Linked DNA regions of Homo sapiens. The protein of the gene in region 1 interacts with the protein of each later gene in a biochemical or structural test. Each region holds a gene or a part of one and is shown on either strand. Other genes may lie near its edges.

Region 1 (3,979 bases):
CCGCGTTGTTCTCTTTCATATTTTTTCCTGAGGATTGTTGAAAACTTTGTCTAAAGGACATATGGGAATTACCATGGGCTTGCCCTATTGTGTGTATTTGGACATGTTATGTAGATTTCCATTCCTTGTATTAGAAAATTCTAATAAAGATTCTCTGTCTGAGTCTGATGGTCCTAGTGGTATTCAGCACGAAGTGAGCTGTACTGTCTGGGATGAATTGAATTAGCGATTGTTCAGTGTCTGCCAACCCCAGTTTTTGGGTGCAGCGACTCTGGATTCGTAATCTTGTTCATTGCTCTGTCTCCTCCTTTAAGTGCAGTGTCTGGCATATAGTAGCGCTCAGTAAATACTTACGAACGAATGTATCATCAGGTGTTTAGAGTCTGTGCTGAGACTCAGGGTGAATACGCCACACCACGAAGAGATATTTCTAAGGAATGTCCATATTCTGACTGGAGTTGCTGTTGGAGCCACGGTAGAGCCATGTGGTGGTGAAAGGATTCTGGCTCTGCTGGTAAGGACTGGAGTTGTTTGACTTGGAGAAGGGAAGACTTATGGAGCTATGACAATTTTTCTTTTCTAATATTAGAAGGGTTGCGTAGAGAGGCACAAGTCTATCATCACTATTGGAAAACATTCTTAGAAATTATGCCCTGTTCTCCTGGTAGGGAGTCAATAGCTATTATAATTGTATTGCTTTTGCTTCATCTTTTATGCTAGGAAGTTACTATAGCTGTAAAAACAAAACAAAACAAAACAAAAAAACAAAAAACAAAAACGAGGCAGGTAGAATTTGGGAGAGAAATGTGAGGATGTTTAAGAATTTAAAGGATGTTTTTTGGGAAAGCTACCATACTTGCCCATTTTTTTTTTTTTATGGCAGAGGAGAGAAACTAAACTATATGTTGCATCATAGGCTAATTTTTGGCTCAATATCAACAAGGATGTTTCTCTTTTATATAGGTTAATATTACCTGCTTTAAAGCAGTCAAAAATGCATTTTAATATAATAGTTTCTTTAACAAGTTGTTTGCCTTTGGCAAAATATCCTATTTTATGCTTATTACCCACATCTTAAATTTCTTCACTTGGATAAACAAATCTGGATTTAGTCAATGACTTGTGGTTTATAACAGCCATATCACTTTTATATAAAAGATAATAGCTAAAGTCAGGCAGGTTTCAAACAAGATGCTACTTGGTTGCAGTGACCATGCCCTACATGTTGATTGTTAACTGACAAATTAGCCCTTTAAGACCACATAGTCCTTTAACCTTAAAAAATGATCTAGGCCATCTAAGTTTTTATTTTCTCATTTATAAAATGAGGAGGACAAGCATAAAAATATCCGCAAGAAATGTACTTTCACCTGTGGCTGCATGAAGAGTTTGGTGAATCCTTTCCACACACAAGTATAAAAATGGCAGAATTGCCCAAAACTATTTGAACTCTGGAAATCAACCAAAAGCAAAGAAAATCATTGAGAAACATTTATTCTTAGGAAAACTGTTAGATCTTCAGGTAAGAATAGTGCAAGTCTACAGCATTCTCGCGTGGGCTTCTACTGTGACCTCCTGTCCCAGCACTTTTGGCAAGAATTGTAGTTTGGAAAACCAGCAGCTTCGCTGTCAGACAGCTGATTCAATTTGGGGCAATGAGTAAAAACCTTTGTCGATAAAATGTACTGAACTTGGTAGGGGAAAACAAGGAAAAACCATGTATTTGCTAGTTTAAGGTTGTAGTGCCAGTTGGGGTGAGTGGAAGAGTAGCTATAAATTAAAAGGCAGACCCTGGAAATGAGAGAACCATAAAGGGATAACCTCTTCACATATCCTGGCATAACGTGAAACTATGCACATGTGTAGGGGAGACCTGAGGTTGTCTAACTGAGAGCAAGGGCCAAGGCAGATGAGAATTCTTTAAGCTTTGAATGTGCCCTTCTTAACCCAGATACAGATTAAAGAGCAGGCTCAAGCTGTTTGAGCATATCTTTGGCATGTACATAGCTGAAAACTAAGATATTCAGACACAGAATGACTTCTCTAGAAAGCCAGGCTAAAACATATATATGTGAATTAAAATCTGAACAGATGTAGTCACACTGCCCAGGACACAGATTCCACAGTTTAGGGCCAGACATGTTAAAAGGCTCAGAAATATAAAATTCTACACTGGTGGCCAGGTGCGGTGGCTCACGCCTGTAATCCCAGCTTGAACCCGTGGGTGGAGGTTGCAGTGAGCCGAGATCACACCGCTGCACTCCAGCCTGGCAACAGAGTGAGACTCTGTCTCAAAAAAAAAAAAAAAAAAAGAATATACACTGGCTATGTTATCCAAAATGTCCAGTTTTTAACAACAAATTTTAAGACACGTAAAGAGACAGAAAAATGTGACCCATGCTGAGGGAAAAAGAAAGCAGTTAATAGAAACTGACTGTGAGTGAGCCTAGATATTAGACTTAGCAAAGACTTCAAACTGCTATTATAAACATGGTAAAAGAAAGGAAACATTATTTAAATAATTACAGGAGAATATGATGACATTGACCCAACAAATTGGAAATCTCAATAAAGAAATGAGAGCTGTAAAAAAAGTTTTATTCTTTTTGATGCTATTATAAATGGAAGTGCTTTCTTAATTTCATCTTCAGATGATTCATTGCTAGTATATAAAAATATTTGCTTATTAGCTCTAAAATTAATTTTTGTGTTTATTCTCTGGGATTTTCTCTATATAAGACCATGACATCTGTGAATAGAGGATGTTTTAATTCCAGCTCCCCAATCTGGATGCCTTTTGTTTATATTCCATGTCTAATTGCCCTAGCCAGAATCTCCAGTACAATGTTGCATAGAAGTCATGATGCAGAAATCCTTGTTTTGTTTCTGATTTTGGGGAAAAACTTTTAGACTTTTACCATTAAGTATAATGATAACTAGGGGTTATTGGTAGATGCTCTTTCTCAGGTTGAGGAAGTGTTCTTTTATTCCTATATTTCTGAATGTTTTAATCAAGAAAGGGTATTAGATTTTGTCCAGTGCTTTTTCCTGAATCAGTTGAGATGATCATGTGTTTTGTTTTTGCTTTTTACCTTTATTCTATTAATATGGTGTGTTACATGGGTTTTTTTCATATGTTGAACCATCCTTGCATTCCTGGGATAAATCCTACTTGGTCATGGTGTATAACCCTTCTACTATACTGTGGATTTAGTTTCCTTATATTTTATTGAAGATTTTCACATCGGTATTCATAAGGGACATTGGTCTGTAGTTTTTTGAGATTTCTTTGCCTGGCTTTGGTATCAGGATATGCTGGCCTTATAGCATGAGTTGGGAAGTAGTATCCCATCCTCTCATTTTTGGAAGAATTTAAGATAGATTGGTGTTCATTCTTATTGAAGCATATTACTGGTGAGGCCATCTGGTCCTTGTCTTTTCTTTGTTGTAAGTTTTTTGTTTTTTATTACATATTCCATCTTTTTACGTGCTGTACATCTACTCAGATTTTCTATTTCCTTTGAGTCAGTTTTTATAGTTTATATTCTAGGAATTTGTCATCTATTTCATCAATTTGGTAGCATACAATTATAGTATTCTCTTATAATTGTGTACTTTTTGTAAGGTTGATATTAATGTTCCCATTTTTATACATGATTTTAAAATTTGAGTCTTCTCTCTTTATTCTTAGTCTAGCCAATTTTGTGTGTGTGTGTGTGTGTGTGTGTGTGCAGGGTCTCTGTCACCCAGGCTTGAGTGCAGTGGTGTGATCATAGCTTATAGCTATGTAAATGGAAGTGCAGCCTTAAACTCCTGGGCTCAAGTGACTTTCCCTCTTGTCAGCCTCCTGAGTAGCTGGGTGCACAGGCATGCTGGCGCATGCCTGGTTAATTTCTTAAATAATTTTTGTAGAGACAGGGTCTTGCTATGTTTTCCAGGCTGGTCTCAAACTCCTGGCTTCAAGCAGTCCTCCCACTTT
Region 2 (3,979 bases), on another chromosome or scaffold:
AGCTATAATAATGTAAAAATGCCAGTTGCAAGTTATTTCAAATAAAGTTGAATAACCTGACCTCAGGAGGGGCAGAAACCTTAGTAAACTTAGCAAACTGAGACCTAAGGAAGAGCAAGATCTGTGGTAGAGCCAGGTCTAAAGGTTTATATCCTGGTACAAACTTGTCTATACATCACCACACCTGCCAAATGGAACTTTTTTTCCTTGTAGTTCAGATTTCCAAGAAAGGGAATATTATTGTCCTAGCTCAGCGTTTCACAATAGACTCACAAAATGAATCTTGTTAAGCCTATGAATGGGTAAGACTTATCCCATAACACGCCTCTATTGTGTAAAAAAATCAGCTTTATTCCTAATTCCCTGTAGTAGGAAGCTTGCATAGACCACAATAGAGACATTGTTAGATTATATCAAGAAGGTGAGTGGCAGGCATTCTTGAGTATACTGGAATTTTTATTTCATTGTAGAAACACAGAATCATAATTAGTCATCTAAAACTGGTTTTAAGGAGATAATACTAAAGATACTCACTTGAGGTAGATTGTTCTCAGAATTACTTAAAATAAGTGCTTTAAATCTTGCTCATTCATGAAGCCATAGCCCTGGAAGGAGATATTGAAAAACTTCTCCATCTTCCTTCAATCCCATAGGACCATGTTTTTAATTGTAGTTTAACATTAAACATAATTTTTGAAAGTAGCCAATATTAATCTTTGACAAAAAACTCAAACTAAATAGCAGAAAATAGAACATGCCCTCTCCTCTCGCCCAAAAGTAAGACTACATTTTAAAGTATATCACAGTGATCTGTCTAAATATTTTTCTCAAATATTTTACTAAGAAAGCGTATATTCTTCTGTCCTTATTTCATAGATCTCTTCTGTATCCTGTGCAGCTTGTCTATCATTTCGAGCTTTTATATTTCTTATTTTGTTCTCTTGCTGCTTAAATGTGATTCTTTGAGATTTATAGAAGAATGTGATTGTTCTCCAGTTTTAAAAAGCTCTTCTCTATCTACTAAAATTTCCATGAATTTCTTTCTTTCTTTTTTTTTTTTTGATTGAGACAGTCTCGCTGTGTTCTCCAGCGTGGCCTTAGGCTTAAGTGATCCTCCTGTCTCAGCCTCCCAAGTAGCTGAGATTACAGAAATTTCCATGAATTTCCAAATATGATGTTATCTTTCATATAAGCTTAAACATAAGCCTTTCTTCTTTCAAAAATGTTAGAACTTACCTCTTTAAATAATCTTATAAAGCCATTTCTTAATTTTTGTTACCTTTTCGAATCTATTAACTTGCATATCATAGTAAATGAACCCTTAGCTCCATCATACCACACACCTTCTACTCCTGTCCTCCCACTTTTTCTCACCCAGGCTGGAGTACAGTGAATATTTAGTGCTTTTAAATATTATTCATTACCAAGCCAAGTAGCGTACTATTTTTTCCTTGTACAGCCTTTTTTTCCCCTAAATAATTGTGTTATTTTTTCATTTGCTTCATTTTCATCTTATCGATTGATAATTCTTCTGTTCCATTTCAGTCTAATTTCCACATGGCCAAACCAATCTAAAAACCTGTTAACTCAGGTCTTTTTTTTTTTTTTTTTTCCCAGAATACCTTTTCCTGGAACCACCTTCTTCTTTTCATTCGAGACCAAATGCTTTCCATGCCTGTGTCAAAGTGGTTGTTCTCTAATCTGTCTTCACTACCATCATAATTTCCTTTTCCTTTTTTCCTTTCTTTATTATGTATCTCCTGTCTTTTAAATTCCATATTTTCCACTTTCATGATTTATTTTCTCATTTTGATGGCTACATCTTTCAGTAACTGAGAAAAGGTTGTGTGAGGGAATATTTTGAGATGCTGTAGTTTTGAAAATATCTTTATTCTGCTGTCTTCTCATTAATAATTTGACTGGATGTCAAGATTTAAGTTGGAAACTATTTTCCATGAGTATTTTGAAGGCATTATCTATTGTCTTCTAGCTTCCAGTGCTGCTTTGTATTAGAGACAGAAGATCAGGAATCAGGATAGCATTGGACTTCTTATTTCTATTTCCCAAAGCTTTTTGGATCTTCTCTTTATTCTTATCTTCTGATATTTTATAATGATATGCTTGATGCATTTACTTTTTCTTTTCTTCTTCCCTCTTGTACATTTCTTTCTTTTTTTAGGTGGGGGCAGGGGGGAAGGAGTCTCACTCTTCTCACCCAGGCTAGAGTGCAGTGGTGCAACCTCAGCTCACTGCAACCTCCACCTCTGGGGTTCAAGCGATTCTCCTGCCTCAGCCTCCCGAGTAGCTGGGATTACAGGCATCTGCCACCACGCCCAGCTAATTTTTGTATTTTTAGTAGAGACGGGGTTTCAGGCTGGTCTTGAACTCCTGACCTCAGGTGATCCGCCCTCCTCAGCCTCCCAAAGTGCTGGGATTAGAGGCATGAGCCACTGCGCCCAGCCCCTCTTGGACCTTTCTAGATATTCATCCTTCAATTCTGAGAAAGGTTCTATAATTCTTTAATTTAAAAAAAGTTTTTTTGTTTCATCTTTCTCACTTTTTTTTTTTTTTTTTTTTTTTAAGACACAGTCTTGCTCTGTCACCCAGGCTGGAGTGCAGTGGTGCGATCTCAGCTCACTGCGCCCTTCGCCTCCTGGGTTCGAGTGATTCTCCTGCCTCAGCCTCCCAAGCAGCTGGGATTACAGGTGCCCACCACCACCATGCCCGGCTAATTGTTGTATTTTTAGTAGAGACGGAGTTTCACCATGTTGGCCAGGCTGGTTTCAAACTCCTGACCTCAGGTGATCCACCTGCTTTGGCCTCCCAGAGTGCTGGGATTACAGGCATGAGCCACCGTGCCCAGCCCTATTCTGATTTCATAGATGCAGTGTCTTTTATGTCTCTGAGAGGTTTTGTCAAGTTTTCTTTTGTTTACTTTATTATCTGTTTCTTCAAGATTCCTCCTCTTTTCTTTTTGCCTTAAGCTTTTTCATATTGGAAGCTTCTCTCAAATGTCTGGTTATTCTGGTTGTCCACTTATATTACGTGGAACAATAAAAAAGTTGATTAGGACTCTGTGCTGTAAGTAAGTAAATTGTTGATAGTGAGAGCCCATTAATCACAGGATGATCAAGCAGCAAGCCTACTGTTTATTTGGGTTTCTCCAAATGGCTATAGCTGTCAGTCTTTTTTTTCTGGGGTTATTTGGCTTCTCTAGAAAAGAATTTTCTAGTCTCTTGTTTGGAGAATACAAGCTTGACTATTGGTGTTCCAGAAAATGGGTGGGAGGAGACGACTTTGTTTTCTGTTAGGTTGAGCCATGTGAAATTACTAGGTTTTGTTTTGTTTTCTGTTTTGTTTTGAGACAGAGTCTCACTCTGTTGCCCAGGCTGGAGTGCCTTAGCATGATCTTGGCTCACTGCAACCTCTGCCTCCCAGGTTCAAGCAATTCTCATGCCTCAGCCTCCCAAGTAGCTGGGATTATAGGCATGCACCACCACGCCTGGCTAATTTTTGTATTTTTAGTAGAGACGGGGTTTTGCCATGTTGACCAGTCTAGTCTCGAACTCCTGACCTCAGGTGATCCACCTGCCTTGGCCTCCCAAAGTGCTGGGATTACAGGTATGAGCCACCACACCTGGGCTGAAATTACTGTTTTTATAGGTCAAAAACAGTTGAGGGATAGGCATGGTGGCTCCCACCTATAATCCCAGCACTTTCAGAGGCCAAGGCAGGAAGATTGCTTGAGTCCAGGAGTTCGACACCAGCCTGGGCAATGTAGTGAAACCCCATCTATATTTAAAAAAAAAAAATAGATGAATATCTTTGTTTGCAGATAACATGATTGCATATGTAGAAAATCCCAAAGAACCAACAAAAAGAGCTCCTAGAACTAATAAGTGATTATGACAAGGTGTAGAATACAAAGTTAATATACAAAGTCAATTGCTTTTTTATCTACCAGCAGTGAACAACTGGA

The links. The genes of interacting proteins can lie anywhere in the genome.
Region 2: the proteins of FBXL17 (region 1) and SPAST form a complex in vitro, tested with the Homo sapiens proteins (one study listed by BioGRID and IntAct).

Annotation. Positions count from the first base shown.
Region 1 is NC_000005.10:108,375,120-108,379,098, reverse strand, and holds part of FBXL17 (F-box/LRR-repeat protein 17), read left to right. Parts: intron 1-3,979. UniProt on the Homo sapiens protein: Substrate-recognition component of the SCF(FBXL17) E3 ubiquitin ligase complex, a key component of a quality control pathway required to ensure functional dimerization of BTB domain-containing proteins (dimerization quality control, DQC).
Region 2 is NC_000002.12:32,118,979-32,122,957, forward strand, and holds part of SPAST (spastin), read left to right. Parts: intron 1-3,979. UniProt on the Homo sapiens protein: ATP-dependent microtubule severing protein that specifically recognizes and cuts microtubules that are polyglutamylated.